Linked DNA regions of Homo sapiens: region 1 is linked to region 2. The links come from fine-mapping of genetic effects on gene expression. A gene starts in region 2. The other region holds a variant in brackets. All regions are shown on one strand. Distances are from middle to middle.

Region 1 (5,364 bases), 42 kb after region 2:
AGGGGGCTGACATTGGCACCTAACTGCCCCAGCCCGAGGGCTCACAGGCTTCCATGGATTCACGAGGGGTCTCTCCTGGCCCTCCGAGATGCGCCTCTCTTGGAATTCTCAGAACAGAGGACCAGGCCAGCTTCCCAGTCACGTCCCAGCCTGTGGAACCAAAAACCACCAGAGCTGGTTTTTAATATTTTCCCCGAGCATTTTTTTTTCCTTTAGTGAGGCTGTTTTCTCTCAGCGTCTGGTCACGAGGCCTGCCCGTCTCAGAGTTCCCGGGCACTCATGCTGCCACCTCAGAGATGAGCCAAGGAACAGTTCGGTCAGACCAGCTGTGGGAGGAAGACGGGACCCCTGGAGGGAGAGGGTTGGGCCCACTGAGGGTTCTGGGGACCCCCTGGGGAGGCCGCTCCACCTGTACCCTGCCAGGAGGACTGGCAGGCTTATGGGCTTACGGGCCCTCTGGTTGTCACATACGCAGTTGCAACTACTGCTTGCTCTTTGACTGATACAAGTTGCTCAATCTCTTACGCTATCGCCATTTTGGACTAAATACTTGTGGGGCTGGCCTGTGCATTGAAGGGTGTTTAGAGCATCTCTGGCATCTACCTGCTAGATGCTGGTAGCACAGCTCCCTCTGAGTTGTGACAATCAAAAATGTCTGCAGACATTGCCAAATGTCTCCTGGGAGGCAAAAATCAGTCCTAGTTGAGAACCACTGGTCTGAAACTTTGCTGGCCCTCGAATAAATGCCAAGTCTCAAAGTTTTCAGACATAATCCAAGAAAAATCATTCAGATGCTGTTTTACTGTTCAATCCCCCAAGCCTTGAATCGATATGCCCATCTCCCATCTACACGATGGACATGTAACCCTCGCCACCTCCCGAATCAAATCGTCAACATTCCTTCCTTCCCCTGGAACCTCTCCAGCTGAGCCGGAAGTTCCCTGGAAATCTCACTCAAGGTCTATTGGAAACCTCATTTGGGATCCAGCAGGATGACTGCTGATTCCCTGTCTGTGGGCAAAGCTTCCAGATTATAGGGATAAGGAAGAGGCTATTGAAATAATTATAGACTAATAGCTAGGAAGCACATGTTTTAGGAGGAATGACATGACTACACTACACTCACTGATCCCACCGGCCAAGATATCTCCCACATGTGTCTGTCACACATCAAAGCACGTTGCCGTTACACTGCCATCTGGGTCCCCTCTTGGGCCCCCCCATGCTTGCTCCGTAGACCTGCTCTAGGTCCACCTGGCCTCCTTTCTTTGCCCACCCTTTCTTTCTTGTGCAAAGGCCCTGAGGCGGCAGAGTATTTGGCATATTTGAGCAACAGCAAGGTGGTCACTGAAGCTGGGGTGGATTGAGGGAGGGGAGAGAGGTGGGACGTGAGTCTGGCTGGCCCTAGAATATAACCTGGACATGACACAGGCCAGTGTCACCGCTGTGGCAGGCACTGCCTGCAGAAAGTCAGTTAGCCAGGGGCTCAGTAGCAGGGTCTGTGCTTCTTCCTGCAGAAAACAGGCCAGTGCCAGCCCAGCGTGCCCTGTGCCTAACCACAGGCAGAGCCTCTCCCCAGAGCCAGTCCCCGTGAAACTCACAGCGTGCTTCTGTGTTGGTATACAGGAATCCGAGCGGCTGGAACTCATGAACGCAGAGCTGAAGACCCAGATTGAGGAGCTGAAGCAGGAGCGGCAGCAGCTCATCCTGATGCTGAACCGACACCGCCCCACCTGCATCGTCCGGACCGACAGTGTCAAGACCCCCGAGTCAGAAGGCAACCCACTGCTCGAGCAGCTCGAGAAGAAGTGACCATGGGCTGGGAGGAGGTGGAGGAGGAGGAAGAGGAGAAGGAAAAGTGACGAAGAGAGAGGAGGAGGGGGGCCCCAGATGGCCCTTCCTTTGGTGCATGAAAAACTGTACAATGAGGTTCAGCACAGCCAGCATCAGCCGAGCTTTTTTGTGAAACTCAGATCAGCCACCCAGGAGGAAGAGCGGGCTGAGGAAACCCAGAGGGACCAAGCGCTGAGACCAAAGTTGACCCTCGGGTAGGGTTGTCCTGCCTGGGGCCCCACTTGAAGGAGGCAGGACAGAGGCACCGAGGCCAGGGAGACGCCCAACGAGGCAGCCCTGGGCTCTTCTCTGGCCTC[T/C]TCACCAGGGCACCCATCCAAGGAACCTCCGAACAGCCAGGAAAAGCCATGAGTTGCAACCAAAACGCGGCTGAGGATGGAACTCAGAATGAAACTGCAACCCACCTGCCCCCAGCCCTGCCCCTCGCCCTGATGCGAAGCTGGAGAGGGGCGTGCTGCGGGGCCCTGATGCCCCCACCCACCTCGGTCCAGCGCGGCCCTGCCCAGGAGGCGGCAGCCGGGCGCACCCTCGCCAGCCCTGCTGGAGTTTGCTGTGGGCACTGAGGCGCGGGCGCCCTTCCAAAGCACATACTCACCGAATGTTTACAGACTGGCTGTCCTGGCAGGGCTTTCAACTGCACATGTTTTTTATACTTTCCTTTTTTTTTTTTTTTTTAATATTTTTTACAAAAAAAAAGATTTTATACAAGCAATATATATATGGATTTCTATAATCACTCGATGTGATACAGTATAAATATGCTATGGTTTGTTTGTTATGAACAGATAGCCACCAGTTACGGCCGTTGTGTGTAACTCCTAAGTACTGTAGTCTCTGGGTGTCGGGGGTGGCCAGGGCGGGGGCGGGGTGCATTTCCATCCTTGTAAACCCTTCATAGTACTCAGTCCTGTATCGCTCAGTAAACATTGCTCTTACTTACATAGCCGCCTTGCGTGGTGTCTGCCTGGGGAATGGGTGCAAGGCCCTCTCAGGGTCGGAGACTGTTTGGAGCCTCTGCTATAGGCCTGTTCATTTTCACAACAGCTCTCCTATTTCACAGATGAGGAAGCTAAGGCTCAGAGACATTAAGCCACCTGCAGTTACTATTTTGAGAGCAGTCAGAGTGTTCGCTCACTCTGCAGATGTTTTCTGAGGGCCTGTTGTGTGTGCCAGGCCCTGAGAATTCACTGGAGGATGAAACAGACCTAAGTCTTGCCCTTGTGGGGCCTCCAGTAAGGAGTGAATCCTGTGCTTGCTCCATAAGTTGTCTCATTTCGTCTTCATGGCAGCCTTGCCAGGGAACAGCACTTGTCCCCAATTCACAGATGGCGAATTAGAGGTCCAGGGAATTAAACTCGCAGACACCATTTGTTGAAGACTTATTTTGTGACAAGCAGACATAGTCTCTTCCCTTCTCACAAGAGCACAAACTAGGCACGATTCTTCTCATTTTACAGATGGTTTAACTGAGGCTCAGAGAAGGTAAGCGACTTATCCAAGGTAACCCAGCTAGCAAGGGATAGAGCTGGTGTTTGAACTCTCCCTCCAGAGGCCTGTGACTCTCCTCCTGTCACCAACCCACTATGATTGTCCTCATGGTTGAATAGGAAGCTTATGAGGCCACAGTTATAGATTTAGTTTCTGGGAAGGCTGGATAGAGTTCCAGGTTGTCCCATGATCACAGAGTGAACCAACTACCCTGGTCAATGTGTGTCTGACCCAGGGAAGGGTGTGGATGGCTTCTCTGCCCCCTCACCTCGACAGCTGAATCCCTGCCACCCAGGGCCGGAGCAGCTCAGTGGCATTCACTCAGTGCCTGCTGTGTACCTGGCACTCGGCAGTTCTCAAGGCATGTCACGCATGAGGAAGGCGGGAGAGGTGTTTTTAGCTTCCTTGTATACTGAAGCTTGCAAAGGCTACAGTTTACCCAACTAAACTTGACTCCTGCATTCTAATCATGTGTTCTTTCTCCTCCATCCCTGGACTTAGGATAACTAGTTGCTGGTGATGACTTCGTGTCAAGAACAGCAGTGAACCTGGGTTGCTTCCCAAATTGTGGACGAGGCCTTCTGGGATGGGCAGAAGTGGAGAATGGTGATTAACACACCTGTGATCCCTCCCTCGCTCACTCCTCTCAGTTTCCCTCCACCCAACACACTTGGTGTGGACTCCCCTGCACCCCGCCCTAGAAACAGGACCTGGTCCTCTCACTGTCAGCTGTGGCAGAAGGTTGTGGCAGCGGGTTGCCTTCTGTCTCGGGGGTCTTGAGGCTGTCGGTCCGGACGATGCAGGTGAGGCAGTGTCAGTTCTGCATCAGGAACCCCTCGCGCTGTAATCCTTTGATATTTTTCAAGCCATGAGAAAAATGAAGTGGACTTACCAGGGTCCCTCCAGTGACCTAGTGGATGTTCTTACAGGACTGCCGTGTGCCACTGGCTGTGGCTTCCCTGGTCCTGTGCTTGGCCACCGGGAGCTGGCATCTCCAAAATAGAGCCTCCTTAGCCTGTGCAGGTGGGCTGTCTTCCAAAGTCACCACACCAGTGACTTGTGCTGTGCGGAGCCTTCCTCACCAGGACCACTGGCTGCTCCTGTGGCTAGAAGTCACAATTATAGGCTTCATTGCAAGAGCCAGCATTTGAGTTTCTTCTGGGCACCTGCCACTGTGCATGTGTGACCTCAACTGCTTTGTGCACCCTGACTGGGGGGTAGGTGCTAGCGTTCCAACATTACAGATGAGAAAACCGAGGCACACAGAAGAGGTAACCTGCCCAAGGTCACAGGTGTTAGGTGGCAGAGCCAAGATGTTATTGTCAGTCTGACTTCAGGTGCATAAAACCTGAGGCTGAGCCTCCCCATGAGAGGAAAAATGTGTTTGTGGTGTGACCTCAGTTGCCAGGGAACTTGTGCAGGAAGCCGGGAGAGATGGCACAGACCCACCTGTGCTCACAGTACATGTTAAGAATTCCCAAGTCTCAGGCAAACCATCTCCAAGGGTGTTCACAGAAGACACACCTTAAAGGCAAACGGGTTCATGATGTAATCTTCTATTGACTAGCTGTGAACCTCATTTTTCTTATCTGTGAAGTGGGAACAGTAATAATCCAAGTCTTTTTATGGAGTTATCAAGATCAAAAAAGGAATGGATATACAAAGTGTTTTGTGAAATAAAAGCTCCCTAAAATGGTAATTATTTTGTCCTCTGTTAGTGTCGGTAGTTATTGATATCTACATAGTACAGGTTATTTAAATATGTTTTATTCTGTAAAGATGGGCTGCCAAGTTTGTGTTCTGACCCTGTACGTGGTCCCTATGGTGTGATGAATGCCTGGGATCGCAGACTCCTGGATCTGTTCAGCTCCTGACTGGTCACAACCAGCCATGCTGGATGCATCATTCCCTCCCTGGGCCTCAGTGTGCCCTCCTGCCAGGTGGTCACACATAAGACCTGTGCCACCTCTGCCCAGGGTTCCTATGAGAATCAATCGAGTTGATGAATGCAACCATGGCCTGAGA
Region 2 (5,364 bases):
GGGAATTCATTATTTTACCTCACCATTTCAGTTTTCCCCTCTTTACAAAGAGCTCGGGATTCATCAATCTCCATTAAACTTCAAAATGAAATAGTCCACATAAGTCAGAGATGCAAAACCCACTGTATTAATTAGGACTTTTCTAATTGCAAGTAATAGGAAACCCAAATTCAAACTGCCTTGGGTAAGACATAATTTACTGATTCCTATAGCTAAAACCTGCAGAGGTCAGGATGATGTCAGGCATGACTGAATTCAGGAACTCAGGCAATGTCATTGGAACTTGATCTGTCTTTCCCTCCGTGGCTTGGCTCTACTTTTCCTCCCATTAGCTTCACTCTCAGTAGTTCCCTTTCACGTGGGGCTTCTGGCAGCTTCTCTTTCCAGCAGATCCACAAAATTCCCAGTCTTGTGAGATTTTCTTGGGATATGTGACGATCTCTCAATCAGCCCATTGACTAGGGCTGGGCGTGTTAATCAGGACTTTTCTAGTTGTGATAGGAAACTTAAATTCAAACTGCCTTAGGCTGAGTCACTTGTCTGTCCCTAAGAGCCAGTGGTAAATCAGCTCCATCCAGCATCCAATGTCTGCATAAAGGACCCAGTTTATGGCTTCTCCCTCTAGCCACTCCCAGAGGCAGTGACTACGTAGAGGGGCCTAGTAGGGAGTATGTGGCGGAAGGGAGGCCTTGAAGCTGTGTTCTTATAGCGTCCTATATGAAACTGAAAAGCATCAATAGCAAATAACAGAGAAGATCTAATGGAGATTATAGAGAGGTAGAGGGGACTAAAGGCCTCCCAAGTCACCCCTTGGTGCCACCCCTGTAACATATTTAATTTGTGGGGGAAGCAAAGGCCCAGTAGGACTGCTGGTGGCCCAGCCACAGTCCAAAACAGGCCCTAGAGAGGACGCGCTCTAACCACACACCCTAATTATTAGTCCCTGAATATAGATCAGTTTAGTTTATCCAAAGCCCCAGCTGAAGACACATCAAGTACTATTGCCTCTGTTCCATGTTTTGTTCCATATAAACATCCAGACACAGGTCTCATGGGAGAAACATCATGAGGCAGTTTCACAGTCCCTGGCTTTGATCTTTACGCTGTAGTAAAGGTGTCATTGGCCTTTCTGGGGCGAAGAGTCATGCTCTTCCACAAGAGTATCAAATTACTGCTCATTTTCCAATGTATATTCTTTCAGGGCCTTGCTTTCTTCTTACCTGCCCACACCAATGCTGTGAGGGAGACTGCTGATGGCGAAGGTGAAAATGGTCAGGCAATGTCATTGGGACTTGGTCTGTCTCTCCTTCCATTAGCCCACTTCTTTTATCCAGAAAGATTTCACTGCACTGGGGAAATAAGGAGAATAAAGTCTCATGCACTCACTCACATGAGAGAGACATGCATGTTCGGGTTTGCTCAATGGCACCCATCTGTCTCAAGTCTTGTTGTTTCTTTCACTCTGAGCATCTGCACTCCAAGAAGGCATGAACTTTTTCTTTCACTTCCTTTCTTCTATGGGTGATGACCTGACATCACTCTCAGAAGGAGGCCGAAAGTCGCTGAGTATAAAAATCGTCACTCCTATCTGGCTTAGGCAGAAGGTAGGGGGCTCGATGGGTACCCAGGAGCTCTGGAGGTAGGAGATGCCATCTAGGGAACCCCGTTCTACCTGAGGGCTCTGTGTCTCTGCCTTTGTATACTGGAGGGCACCATGGATGTCGCCTTCCCTCTGGAGTCCCCTTCACCATTTCCTCTCTAGAAGGATGGAAGGTGGGAGTGGGGTTGGCTATTGAAGCTGGAACGGGGAAGAAGGCCACTTGGGGTCTGCTGAGGGCTGGGTCTGCTCACTGCTGTGTCCGGAGTGGAAAGGAGAAGCCCGCTGGAGCAGGGTACAAGCCCAAGGGTCAAACTGCGCCAGCAGTAGAGCAAGCCGCGGTCTCAGGCTGCAGCCCTAGCAGAGGTCAGGCTGGTGCAGCCAGCCGTCTCGGGGCCTAAGGGCGCTGGCGGGGGCCGGTGGGTAGGGGTAGGAGTCCCCAAATGCCTTCATCTCAGCCCATCCTTCTCCACCGAAAAATAAAGCAGGCTGGCGAGATCGCCTCCTCACCCGCTCAGTCCTGAAGTGTCCAAGGATGAAACTGTGCGGAAATTCTCCCTGTCGCTCTCAGTTTGTGGGGGAAGCGCCGGGACTGAGGTACATGGTTAACACAGGCTGTGCGTGAAGGGGCTTTTGACTTTTCCCCCGGCTCCGGCCTCTCGCGTCTCTCTCCTAGGGCTGCGGCTGCTGCTGCCTGGCGGGCACAAGCCGGGCGGCGGTGCGCGGGGGGTGCGCTTACATAACCGCTCGCCGCGTCCTGCTTTCTCGAGCGCTCCTGCACCGTGGGGTGGCGGAGCCGGGGGACTGCATGGAACCCGGGACGCCCCCGCGGGGAGAGGAGCGCGAGCGGCCGCGGGAGGAGGGCGCCCAAGGCGGCGGGGGAGGTTAAGGTCAGTGGGTGTGAAGCGCCGGCTCCACACCCCCTCCTCCCCGGTCCCCTCCTTCCCTTCCTCTCCGTCCCCCTCTGACGTCTGGAGCTGGCAGCTCGGCCGGTTCCGCATTCCCGACCCCTCCCCGCCGCCCAGGGGCCGCTATATAGCCGGGGCTGATGCAACCCGTCCCGCCGCCCGCCACAGCCTGCGGGAGGGACGCTCGGCGGCCGCGACGGGGGGCGCTGGCGGCGGCGGACGCTGCAGCGGCGGCGGGGCTGGCGCCGCGGCGGCTCCCGGGCCGGGACAGGCCTGGGCACCGGGCGGAGCTCCGCGGCCGGGCGGCAGCGGCGCGGAGCGGGCACGGCGCCTGCAGCCGGGCCCCGGCCCCGGGGGCGCCGCCTCCCCCCGCACCTTCTGCACGGTGGGTGCGAGGGCGCGCGCTGGGGGCGCCGGGACGGGCGGGGCGGGGCAGGGCGCGGCGCGGGCACCTGGGACGGCCGCCCCCGCACGGGCGGAGCGCGAGGAGCCCCAGCCCAGCCCCGCGGGGAGGCTCCCGCAGCCCAGGGACCTCGAGCTTTCCCCGCGCCGGGCGCTGCAGCCGGGCCCCTCCCGCGAGGCGCCCGGCAGCCTGAGGCTTCCTTTTGGTTCCCGCCCCGGGACGGGAGGCTCCGTCCGCTCCCTGGACAGCCGGGGTGCTCCCTCCTTCTCCCTCCCGCGCTCTCCTCCCCCGTCCGTTTGCAGGGAGGTGCTCTCCTCGGGCGGCGGGGAAGGCGGGGTGAGTGGGGAGAAAAGTGCCCGCGGAGATGGGCTGTGCGGGTGGAGGTGGAGGGTGAAGGGCCAGGGAGGTGCGGGGTTGGGGTCGGGGTTAGATTGTGGAGGGATGACAAGGACCTCCTGGCAGTGAGGAAGCGCGACTCCCGGAGGACCCGGACCCGGAGGAGAGTATTGAGAAGGGCTCGGGATTTCCATCCAATGAAGGCAGCTTCTCTCATGGCCATTGCTTCGGAGCTCTGGGCTGGGAGGGGATCTAGGGGTGGCCGGGGTCCCCTTTGGGCTCTCCTGTCTCCCACGCCAGGTTATATAAGGAGGCAAGCAGGCTCCTGTAGGTAACCAGCCTCTCCCTTGCCCAGCCCAGCTTAGAAGGCTCTCCTCTGCTCCTCCCTTCAAAGGAGGTTGTCGAGGGGTAGGGGTGCAGTGGGGGGTGGGAGAGTGTAGGGGTGGATTGGGCCTTCCACCTGGATCCCTGGACCCTGGGATGGCAGAGCCAGGCTTTGCCTGGGTCAGTAGGAGGAGCAGGGAAGATGAGGAGGCTGGGGAAGATGGGGAGGTCCTGGCTCTTTTGCAGGGATGGAGAGGCTGGTGGAAGGAGAAATCAGCCGACCCCCTTGGGTCATCTCCAGTTGCAAGATGGCGTGGCCCTTGCCCAGGGTGCTGCCCTCCCTGTTGGAATCCAGGGCATGGGGCTATGGCCCGACCACGTGTGCTCAGGGCAAATGTGCTCAGGTCTATATCTCAGAAAGGGCTTGCAGCCTGCTTAGGCGTGTGTACCCAGGCTTAAATCTTGGTGGTCTCTCCCTAGGGTCTTAATTGGAGGAGCATCAGGAATTGGGAAGCTTTGAACCATGTTTGGGTACATTTGTACCCAAACGTCCTTTAAGCCCTTGGTAGAAACTGCATTCGCGTATCATCTCCCTTCCCCCCAACCTTCCTTCCCTGAGGGTTTTAAAAAACACTTCCCATTGCTTTTACCTTTCCAGCAAATCTGGCTGCAGCTTGGATGGATAGCTTATCTTCCTTTGCAGGTTTCTAGGGGAGAGTTTAACCAGGTATCAGGTGTGAGCATGGCTCTGATTTTGTATAAACCTGAGGATCGAGGAAGAGAAGCAAAATCTATTCTCACACCTCTGGGTGGTTAAGGTTTTGCCTTGTTTAGAGCAGGGAGGATGGATTTCTCAAAGACTCTTCTGTTCCCTTCTACTTTGGCTTTGGTTCAGAGCTGCAGGCAGCTCCAGAATCTTCCTGAAGAGCTGGGTGCTGTGTGATTTGAAGGGCTGCAGGAAGTCATGGGTGTGTAGACCTCTGGCTTTTCTCCTAGGTGGGCTGCAGGAAGTCATGGGTGTGTAGACCTCTGGCTTTTCTCCTAGGTTGGCTGCAGCCACCTCCAAGGAGATGTGTTGCAAAGTGGTGACAATGCCCCCTAGGAAGGGTTTGGATAAGGGTCTCCCCACTCATCCACTGCCTAACTTTTGCAGCTACCAGGGAATGCTCCTCCTGACTCCCTGGGTTTGTTGTCATCTCCCTACCTGTTTGTAGGATGTGTGGGCATTTTTTTCCAACCTGCAGAATCCCTGGCAGGAATAGGCTCTCTGGGCCTTGTTTGTCGTGGGGCTACTGGTGTTGCAATGGGCTGTCTCTCTCGAGTGTCTGTTTCCAGCTCCACTCTGGAAAGAAAGGGGCCAACGCCGACTCTAGGCCGGCCTGCTCTGTATTCATTCAGCTCCAGCTCAACTTGAGCAATCAGAGCCAGGGTTGAGGGCAAGCTACATTCTTTTCTGCCTTTCTGCTGCAGGATGCAGTTTGCTTTTTTTCCATGCGAATGAATTATGTTTGAAACCGAAATGGGAGGAAGAGAAAAATGGAGTGAGTGTATATGGGTATGTGTGTGTGCATACCTATATAGGCAGGGGAGGGCAGCAGGCACATTATTTTTCCATTTTCCTTTAATTAAGGCTCTGTGGAGGTGTGTTTGAAAACAGAGGGTCTCCTATGCCTTTGAGGAGGGTGAGAACACTGTTTTGGCTGCGTCCCGGGCCATATGCAGCGTATGGTGGCCAATGAAACCGGGCCTGGCTCATTCTGTTGCTTGTCTTGGCAGTCGGTTCCGTGGCTTGTATT

Direction of the effects. Alleles are on the strand shown, and positions count from the first base shown. SD is a standard deviation of normalised expression in the study named.
With allele T in place of C in region 1, the expression in cerebellum of the gene that starts at base 2,660 in region 2 is higher (small effect, 0.26 SD a copy in GTEx).

Evidence for each region. PIP is the estimated chance that this variant, and not a neighbour inherited with it, causes the effect.
Region 1: its variant is fine-mapped to the expression of JDP2 in cerebellum (GTEx, PIP above 0.99).

What each region holds. Positions count from the first base shown.
Region 1 is chr14:75,467,664-75,473,027 of GRCh38, forward strand. JDP2 (Jun dimerization protein 2) reads left to right here. Exons shown (of 4, transcript NM_001135048.2): 4 at 1,627-5,364. The coding sequence ends at 1,812. Among named protein-coding and RNA genes, the nearest start is that of JDP2, 42 kb to the left of the region's middle. The variant T/C (reference allele first, on the strand shown) is at 2,151.
Region 2 is chr14:75,425,363-75,430,726 of GRCh38, forward strand. JDP2 (Jun dimerization protein 2) reads left to right here and starts at 2,660. Exons shown (of 4, transcript NM_001135048.2): 1 at 2,660-2,890. It overlaps JDP2-AS1 (JDP2 antisense RNA 1), which reads right to left and starts at 2,293. Exons shown (of 2, transcript NR_184172.1): 1 at 2,108-2,293; 2 at 1-1,349. RefSeq lists enhancers at 1,429-1,528, 1,779-2,108, 2,129-2,188, 2,156-2,713 and silencers at 2,379-2,648, 2,899-3,078, 3,139-3,308.